2 separate regions of the Homo sapiens genome follow, and region 1 is linked to region 2. The links come from fine-mapping of genetic effects on gene expression. Tissue or cell type: skin. Region 2 holds a variant in brackets; the other region holds the start of a gene. All regions are shown on one strand. Distances are from middle to middle.

Region 1 (5,000 bases), 28 kb after region 2:
GTGATGAGGTACACGAATGAGCTTTGAAAGTGAAGTGTTAAACAAACATAAGATGTCATTATTGCTTCTAATAATTCTTTAGAAATTGGTAATTAACATGTTCTGCGGCTGATAATTACATCACCAAATAAATGTGAACCAGAATGGTCAGTTTCCCATATTATCCTATTCCCCAAACATTCTGGATCAAACAAAGTTGAACTGAAAATATATAAATTGAAAGCATATAACTATATTGCTATTTTTGCTTCCTTCTCAGTAATGTATGTTTCAAGGAAACAATTTCAATATTGTTAGAGGGCAAAAGCTAACAAAGGAGACAGCCTGAGGAGTCTTAGTAAATTTTTCTTTACAAGGCACATTAACCAAAGATGTTAGAAGTTGCAAGAGATCTCATGAGTCCACGTGAACAATTTACTAATAAAAATCCTTGACTGGATGGAGCTAGACTTCTAAAAGGCAAATCCCAGACTATTTCTGTATCCCCCCAACTCGGAGTTCCTCACATGTGAGTTCCACTCAACAAGTGCTCAGTAAATGCTCCTGCAAGAAAAGAAGAGAAGAAGAAAGGAAAGACCAGGGCTTCTGAGAATGTCACCTGCTCATCAGTTACTGCTGTTAAATAATAATGGGTCATAGATCCTATATTTGTTTCCCAGCCGTTCAACTTTTTTCAATTCTTTCTTCTCTTAAATATAAGTTCCTCTGATGAATCTTTTCTTAACCATAAACAGTGCAGAAAGATGGGATTAATTGGATGGGAATCTTTCTAAAATGCCGAAAATCACTTTGGCTCTACATTGAATGTCACATCATTTGACAGCTTTCATTTAGGACAAAGGTGAAATAAACTTACTTAGTTTGGGGTTGTTGTTGTAACCTCTCCTTCTCTATCTGGCCATCAAAATAGGGAGTGAGCTGGATGCAGGATTTGGAAGACTAATATCATCCATCTTTTTCACAGATGTTTTCCACCCTAGCCTTTACAAGCAAGGATAAGTCTAGAAGGTCCATGAAGGCAACCAGAAATTCTTTCATATCTTTTCTAATATAAAAGCCTTTTTAACTAAACATGGTAAGACACTGATCTTGATCCATATGGGCTCCTAGTATCTATTTCTAGAGATCTGTTTTAGCACAAGGTACCACCCTCCTTGTACACAGGTGTCTTCCTGAAACATCTTTTTGGAGAAATAATAATCAAAAAAGTCTAAACTGCAAAATAGGGCAAAGGGAGAGACAAAATTTCATGCAATGACAAGATGCCAGATGCCTTTGGAAGGACTCTGGGGGACAGAAAATGAATGAATTCCTTCTCCTGGACAGAGAGACAGTTCTAGAAATATTTTCCTTCTATTGGAGATTGCAGTCTAGAGATCTGGCTTTGGATACCAGCTCTTCAGCCTGTTTAGAGATCCATTCCCCTAAAACAAGCCTGCGGAGTTGGTAAAATTTCTTAGGAGAAACTGGAAAATGCCAACACCACCACTTGAGCCCAGAGAAGCCCCTGATATTTGCTTTTCACATAACATGGATTTTGTGATCGCTTGCAAGTGAGTAACTGCAATTTTGGGAATTAACCAAAGGGCTGAGCTGCCCAGTCTTTTCATTGCCACTCAGGTTCTACGAAGCCCAAAAAGTTTTCTGGGAGATACTGGTCCAAGGACTCTGTGGACCTTTCCTTTGATGTGTGAGTATTCAAAGAATCCTTTTGCCCCCTGCAGCCCCTTCTGTCTCTTGCTAAAGACAATTGTCTTTAGTTATCACTGCGAGGGAGCTTTCCCCATGCCAGCTGGAATCTTGGGAGGCAGGACACGACTCCAGATCCTCGGGCTGAATAGGGAAGCCAATGCTATCCCTGCCCGCTGGAGTCTGGCGACTCCTGCCCTTGTCCCAAACCACACGTTTTCCCGCCTCCCGGGAAGCACCCAAATCTCTTCCACCCTTCCTTAGAGCTAGCCAGGGAGATTCCGCCTTCCAGGGACAAGGACCGATCGGAGCGGGCCCAGCATCTCCATGGCGACTCTGCAAACCTGGCGTTCAAGGCCGCGCGCGCTGGTCCTTGCCCCGCCCCAGGGCCCTGTCTTGGCTCATTCCTTCCGAGCCGGCACCACCTGCAAGCCCGCCTCGGGCCTGGGGCGCCGCGCTCCAGGCGCTGCTACCCCGGTGTCTGCTCACACTATGCCCAATCCCCTATTGTTTTGAAATCCCAAAAGTAACCTCAAGAGGATTTCTTCCTCACACTCTCAGGCCCCCAGCGCACCTTACCCTTTTTATCAAAATAAAACAACCCTCCACCTCTCGCATTTTCAAAGGATTAAGCAGCAATCTCCAGGAAAGAAAATCAATCCCCTCCCCACCATCCCATCCCCAGCCAAGCTACGGCTCCGCCACCACCTCCGAGGCCCGCCGCCGCCGCCTCTCTATCCGCATCCCGGATAGGGGCGCCACCACCCCGCGCGTGACCCCGCTTTCCCGCGGGTACAGATAAAAATCCCCTCACCCTTCCGTAGATGCCATGGTCTGGGGAACGCCCCCTCCTCTTCAGCACTATCCGGCAGCTGTGGGCGAGGGAGAAAGCGGACGCCGGGGTGAGCGCGAAGTGCGGCCGGGAGCGGTATTTAAGAGGAGCCTCTGCCCGCCCTTCCACCCGCCTCCGGGGTAAGCCCTTTAGCGCCTCAACGGGCGCAGGAGGCTCCTGCGGGCGCTAATCCGCGTCCCGGCTCTCCACGGCGCGCGACCCGCGCTCCCCTCCGCCCGCGGGGATGGCGCTTGGCGGGGAGCTCCGGGGGCTCCGAGGGTGGCTTCCCCGAGAGAGCGATGCGCCCAGGGCTGCAGGAGGGCGCACGCCGGCGATGCGCCCCTGCAGCCGCTGCCACCTGTGCTTTGCTGCGGGGCTCGCGGGCGCGGCGAGTGGCGGGAGCAGAGAGTGGTGGCAGAGGACGGTGAGCGTGCGTGCGCGTGTGCGGGTGTGTGCGCGCCTGGGGAGGCGGTGGAGGCCGCTGCGCTCTGGCTCGGCGCCGGCCAGGGAGGGATTGCAAGGTTTAGCCCCGCCGGAGCTGGGGATTTGCAGGCGATCCCTCTCTATTTTCGTCGAGAGCTGACATCACCCGCGCCGCCGCCTCGGGCAACTCCTTTAACCGCCGCCCCCCGCCCCCATCTCCAGTCGCGGTCCCTCCTCTGCCATCCCTCCCCCCAGCCTCTCGCCATAAATTAGCCAAATAAGAAAAGAGGCCCCGCCGCTCGTCCGGGAAGGCTTGGGCAGCCGGTGGCAGGAGCCCAGGATCTAAGGAGTAGCTATTGTTTCCCCTGAAGCCCGCGTGGCCCCAGGTCACCCCGTGCGGGGTGAAGCGCAGGCGACCGCGCGGAGACCCGGGATGCCCCTCCGTCTCCGCCTCCCTGGAGCAGCCCCTGGCGCTCCCTCCTCACTCCCCGGAGCACCCGCTTCAGCTCACACTCACCCCCAAACTCACAGGCAGGCACACCCACCCCATCCTCCCACGTCTGGGGGTCCCAGGTCCAGCGGAGTCGAGCGGCTGAAACACGCGGGTGGTGCAGCCTAAACGCGGCCCAGCTGCGCTCCCTCCCCCGCCGAAGCTCGAATAAATCTCTGGCCTTCAATTATTCAGCGAGATTAATATTAATGCAGCTCCCTGGGGGCGGCGGGCGGGGTGCAGGGGAGGCCGGGATTTTTTTTTTTTTTTTTTAGGCCGAGAGAGGTCGGCCTCGTGGGTGCCGGCTGAGAAGGCGCGGAGAGTTGGCCGAGGGGTGAGTGGCGGGGGACGGTTCTCCACCCACTCGGCGCTGCTCGCCGCCTGCTTCCGTGTCCCGGGGGCGGCGCACAGAGACAGATGGGCTTGTGCAAGGGAGAGTTCGAGCCTTCCGGACGCCTTTGCATAAAAATGACGAGACCTGTGCAGCTTTGATTATCTCTGGAATACTGCAGGAACCTAGGGTCCCACTACTTGCCGACCCTGTGAGCGCAGAGCAGGCAAAGCCTCACTTTCCTCGTCTAGGCAATGGAACCCAAAAGAACTCACTTGGAGGGCCACAGGAGAATTAAACAGACTCTCTTTTTCCCCGGGGTAGACGATCTTCGGATTTGCGCTGTGCTGGACCTTGTTAGACGATGGAACGCGACCGGCCACGTGCAAACTCTCTGAGTAGGTCCCGGGGATGGTGCCAGAGGAGCCGGAGTCCCAGCAGGACCGATTGGTAGTTAAATGCCAGGCGCTGATATCCGAAGGCTTGAGTTCTTCACCACCTTCTAGCTGAGTAACCTGGGGCAAATTCCTCCATCTCTCTCTTCATCCCACCTGTAAAATGGGACTATCTTCTCCCACTTCTCTGTGCTAAGAGAACTAAATGAAATGGAGAGGATATGTAAAACTCCTAAAGTGGCGTCTGGCACCCAGTAAACCCTCCAAAAATATTCAGTGCATTTTCAGAGTCCTTAGAAGATAGTTTATTGGACAAAATATCCAAGTATGAACAGACAGATGAGAAAAATAACAAGAAAAAGAGGGGAAAACACATTAATAAAATTTAAAAAATAAATCTCTGCTTACCTCCTTCCTTTACTCTCCTTTCCAAAATCTGAATCCAAACGTCATCTTCCATCCATGCCTTTCTCCATCTCTCCCCTCCCCCCTTCTCTCTCAATCCTGTCTGCACCATTAGAATAATCATGTCTGTACCTTATTCATCCTAGGTTCCTTCAGAACCACTCTAACTTTGCATTTTCTTTATTTAAAAAAAAATGCCATAAGCATCTCTTCGTCTTAGGGCATTTGACTTTGGGTACTCTTCTCTTCCGAAAAATTAGTTATTGTTTAACCTGGTAAATGTGTTTAAAAATAATTTGTAGATGAAGAGCTATCTTCTTTCACTTTGGTATTATGTTTGACACTCTCCTCTTAAGCCCCGTCAAGGGTAAGTGTGTGTCTTTGTATCTGAAGTTGTCACATATACAAACTTTACAGTCTAATTGTCTAACTTTA
Region 2 (5,000 bases):
TCTCCAAGTAGCTGGGACTACAGGTGTGTGCCTCCATGCCTGTTTAAATTTTTGTATTTTTTATAGAGACAAAGTCTCCCTATGTTGCCCAGGCTGGTCTTAAACTCTTGGACTCAAGTGATCCTCCCGCCTCGGCCTCCCAAAGTGCTGGGATTACAGGCATGAGCCACCATGCCCCACTCAGACATGTTTTTATTGAAAGATAACACCCTACCCCAGATTGTGAGCATGTAGAGCCTATGCCTCCTTCACATTTGTTTCCCAGCAGGATACACCTTCGGATGCTCAGAAAGCATGAGCAGGTGGAATTACCCTAAATGAACTAATTCAGAAGCACAAAACCAAATATCACATGTTGTCACTTATAAGTGGTAGCTAATCACTGGGTACACGTGGACATAGAGATGAAATAATAAACACCGGGGACTCCAAAAGGGGCTGGGAGTGAGGGTTGAATAATTACCTATTTGATGCGATGTTCACTATTTGGGTAACGGGTACACTAGAAGTCCAGTCCCCACCAGTATGCAATATACCCACGTAACAAACATGCACATGTACCCCTGAGTACAAAACTAATTTAATTTTTTAAAAACCTAAATATGTAGATGACCAAAAACTGAGGGAAAAAAAATATTTGTGGAAGAGTCAATAAAAGAATCAATAAGAGAATGAAGTGCTTTAAAGCAATACCTCTTTAACTTTTATTTCATATATTCAAATATTCCAAGCAAAAAAATGACTCAATGCTTAAATCACTGGGTGAATTGGCCCAGTTTCCCATTCACATGCCCAGGTAGAGAGCCCAGCAGGTGAGGAAGGAGCTCAAGGCTGAGTTCACAGAGTTCCTCATTCTCGTTCCAAAACTACTTCTCAGGTTTTTGGTCTTTTTTTTGTTTTGTTTTTAACTATTAGTATTTTCTTCTTCTTCTCCTTCTCCTTCTTCTTCTTCTTATTATTATTTTTCTTTTGGTGAGACAGAGCTTCACTCTTGTCACCCTGGCTGGAGTGCAATGGCATGATCGTGGCTCACTGCAACCTCTGCCTCCCGGGTTCAAGCGATTCTCCTGCCTCAGCCTCCGGAGTAGCTGGGATTACAGGCACGAGCCACTATGTCTGGCTAATTTTTGTATTTTTAGTAGAGACAGAGTTCACCATGTTGTCCAGGCTGGTCTTGAACTCCTGAACTCAGGTGATCCACCCATCTCAGCCTCCCAAAGTGCTGAGATTACAGGCATGAGCTACCATGCCCAGCCTCTTTTTTGTTCTTAAATTTTCTTGTAGACACCAGGTCTTGCTATATTGCCCAGGCTGGTCTCAAACTCCTGGGTTCAAGTGATCCTCCCACCTCAGCCTCCCAGAGTGTTGGATTACAAGCATGAGACACTGGGCCCAGCCAAGGTTTTGGGGTCTTAAGTATTTCACTTTTCCGGATTTCTGTTTGCTATCTGTAAAATGAGCATGCTTTAAAGCTAAGAATAGAGATAATAAAGTTTAAAGTTTGAAACTTTGATTTGTATTTTTAAATGGTCACTATGACATTTAGCAACTGGTTTAGCTGGTTTTGGATGTTTATTCGGTCAACAGCACAGCCTGTGTGAAGCACTAGCTAAACACCCCAGTTAGCCTGCTCTAAAAGACAAAAACACAAACAAAAAACCCACTTGACTTTAGCACGTACAGTAATGAGTTTCAAACATGTCTGTGTGCAATCTACAGTAAGAAATAGATGTCTTCTTTTTCTCATGATGTCTCAGCGCACACCCACACACAGGCACGTGCACACACAGGCATTCACACACCAAAGTACAAGAAACGACCCATGTCCTTCCTACATGTAGTGTACCCTGATAGTTTCTATTCTCCTCCATTTCATTTTTAAAATTTGATTTTTTTTAAGTAAGTTGCTTTCTTGACCCACTAAATTGGTTTTGGCCTGCAGTTTGAGAAGCAATATTGAGGTTACGTTTTACTGACCACTCGAAATGTGACCAGTGCAAAATGAGATGTGTCATAAGTTTAAAATACCAGCAGAGTTTGAAAATATTACCAAAAAATAAAATGTACCATCTCATTAAGGAATTTTTCATATTAGTTACATGTTGAAGCAATCATAACTTGGATATATTGAGGTAAGTAAAATCTATT[CT/C]TTTTTTTTTTTTTTTTCTTGAGATGGAGTTTCACTCTTATCACCCAGGCTGGAGTGCAATGGCACAATCTTGGCTCACTGCAACTTCCGCCTCCCTGGTTCAAGCGATTCTCCTGCCTCAGTCTCCAAAGTAGCTGGGAGTACAGGCATCAGCCCCCACACCCAGCTAATTTTTGTATTTTTAGTAGAGAAAGGGTTTCTCCATGTTGGCCAGGCTGGTCTGGAACTCCTGACCTCAAGTGATCTGCCCGCCTCGGCCTCCGATGGTGCTGAGCTTACAGGTGTGAGCCACCACGCCCGGGCATAAAATCTATTCTTAAAACTAATTTCACCTGTTTCTCTTTCCTTTTATAGTGTGGCTACAAGAAAATCTAGTATTCTATCTGTGGCCTCTGCTATATTTCTGTTGGATGGGGATGATCACGAGCAGGGTCAGTCAACCATGGTCCACAGGTCAAATCCAGCTTGCCATCTATTTTTGTAAATAAACTTTTATTGGAACACAGCCTTGCTCGCTTATTTACATACTGTCCGTGGCTGCTTTTGTGATGCAATGGCAGAGTTGACTCATTATGATACAGACTGTATGGCTCACAAAGCCTACAATATGCACTATCTGGCTCTTTGCAGAAAAACTTTGTGAACCCCTAAAAGAGCATTGGGTGCTTATAATCTGCCAGTCACAATTCTGTGAGAGTTTTATGACCCTGTTTTACCAATGAGGCTCTGGGCGATTAAGTAATTTGCCTGAGGCCACCCACCTGGGCAAGAAGTCACAGAGCTGGGATTTGAACCATTGCCAGTCTGACCACAAAGCCTGTGCTATCATCTCTACCCTGTGTGTACCTTCCCATACACCCTCCAAAACCCTTCTTACCTAGGTACAGCGCTGAATTCTACCACTGTAGCAGGGAGAACCAATCAGCCCACCTGACCGTCAACCAGTCTAGAAGGAAATGGGAACAGGTTTGGTTGGGGAAGAAGGGATCTCCTCAGGGAATTTAAAGGTTGTTAACTGCTGTTTTAGTTTTAGGACAAATTACCTGCCTTCTAACTGCCATGCAAACAAATACCGCTCAGGTGTGACCAAAATTTAAGCATCTTAAGTCTCCGCTCTCTTCAGTTAGGAATTTTCATTAAAACAGCTTGCCTTTCACTTTCAACCCTCAAACCTAAGGACTTCAAATACTAGATTTGGTAACTCTGGATATCCAAAGTCACTTTGGGGGAAAAAGGAGCGTAGGAAAGATTGCAAATATTTAGCAGGGCTATTTTTGAATCTCTTGATTTAGGCTAGAAGTCCAATGCGCTATCCATTGCACCACAGAGCCTGCTTGCAAGCAGGGCTATTTTTAAGTGAAAAAGCTAATAACAAAATAGTTTGCAGAATGATACCTTATCTTGATAAATAAATAAAAATCACCCTTATCGTCCCATTCCATGTGTTTGTGCACGTGTGTGTGTGTGTTTTGAATATTATTCTCACAGGGTATTTGGAATTCTTTTTGCTTACACATACTTTTAAGTGTTTGTACAATTAAAAAAATGCATTGCTTGCGTAAGTTTTTGTTTCCTGGTTTAAGGTGCACATTTTTGGTTTTATTTTCTAAGTACATTGCTGAGCTTTCGCTGATTTCTACATAGGAAGACACAGAGAATGTGAACTCACCCAGATACAGAGGAAAATCAGGGTCTTTCAGGACTCGGACGGGGAGGGCATCCAGCAAAAGTAGGGCTGCAGCGCCCCCATGTGTCCAGGGCGGTGGAAGTCACCAGGAGTAGGCGGAGGAAGCCGGCTTCTGACATTTGGGGGAAGGGGACCTGCCTTCTCTATTGCGAATACTATTGGGAATTCCCAGAGTCAATCAGCAGTTAAATGCTTACTGAGTTTCTTATTCATACTCCATCTTGCCAGACCAGAAATCTGAGAGAGCTGGAGCTCCCAAGGCCCACCCTTTGGCTGCCTAAATTAAGACTCCCGGGGTTCCCACACTCTTTTTCCCAATGGCAGTGGAGGGTCTTGGGAAAACTGTCTGGAGGGAATGCCCCGAGTCCTCCTCCCAGTATCTGTTCAGGCTTGGCACCCTTAGGACCTCCCCTTCTGGAAGATTCAGCAGTGCATGTGTATGCTTGGAGAGGGAGGGTGGATAAATGTGGCATGAATCTATTTGGAAGGTTTTATACATCTTGAAGTCTCAACTTTAGGTGTTTCAGGGGGGTATTAAGCACACCAGGGCTTAAATCATAGAATATTTCAAAATAGCCACCTTTTTCCAAGCACCTATATACCTATATGTTCCAGCACTGGTCAAATGACAGATGACTATCGTTACAACCGTCCAAGATAGGTGCTATCATACCTACTTTATGGTGGGAGTCTATGAGGAACCTGAAGCTCTGAGAGGCCAAGTCATTAATCCAGTAAGTATCTGGTCCTAGATTCAAACATCTCTATCCTCCTTCTTGGTGCCAGGTGTCCCATGTGAAGGTTTGGGTCAGAGTGTGGTGCTAGCAGGTGGCAGAAGCCCAAGATGCATCATCACCCAGGGTCTCGGGCTGCTGGCCTCCATGCAGCTGCCAGATGTGGCTGTATCTGTCTTCCAGAGGGCTGTCCTTAACGCCTAGCAGAGCAGCAGCCTCTCTGTAAGGATCTGTTTAATGCATGAATGGCACCGCATTTTATTGCAGCTTGAGCTGGTCCCAGGAGACTCTCCTGATTTCTAAAGCTGCCACTTTGAAGACACAGGCCAGCCCAGCTCCTGACTTCTCCCCACAGTGAATGCAGGAGGCTCTTCCCCGGTCATTTTAAAGCTAGATGGCTGCAGGTGACCCATAGCACCCATATCCCCCA

Which allele goes with the higher level. Alleles are on the strand shown, and positions count from the first base shown. SD is a standard deviation of normalised expression in the study named.
For the expression in skin of the gene that starts at base 3,112 in region 1, allele CT in region 2 goes with a higher level than allele C (moderate effect, 0.64 SD a copy in TwinsUK).

The links. PIP is the estimated chance that this variant, and not a neighbour inherited with it, causes the effect.
Region 1: it holds the start of SLC1A2, and the variant in region 2 is fine-mapped to the expression of SLC1A2 in skin (TwinsUK, PIP 0.95).

Annotation. Positions count from the first base shown.
Region 1 is chr11:35,416,447-35,421,446 of GRCh38, forward strand. It overlaps SLC1A2 (solute carrier family 1 member 2), which reads right to left and starts at 3,112. Exons shown (of 11, transcript NM_004171.4): 1 at 2,504-3,112. The coding sequence starts at 2,520. It overlaps SLC1A2-AS2 (SLC1A2 antisense RNA 2), which reads left to right and starts at 2,611. Exons shown (of 2, transcript NR_186310.1): 1 at 2,611-2,661; 2 at 4,090-4,556. RefSeq lists an enhancer at 2,758-3,258.
Region 2 is chr11:35,388,514-35,393,513 of GRCh38, forward strand. All of the region lies in intron 1 of SLC1A2 (solute carrier family 1 member 2), which reads right to left. Among named protein-coding and RNA genes, the nearest start is that of SLC1A2-AS2, 28 kb to the right of the region's middle. The variant CT/C (reference allele first, on the strand shown) is at 2,149.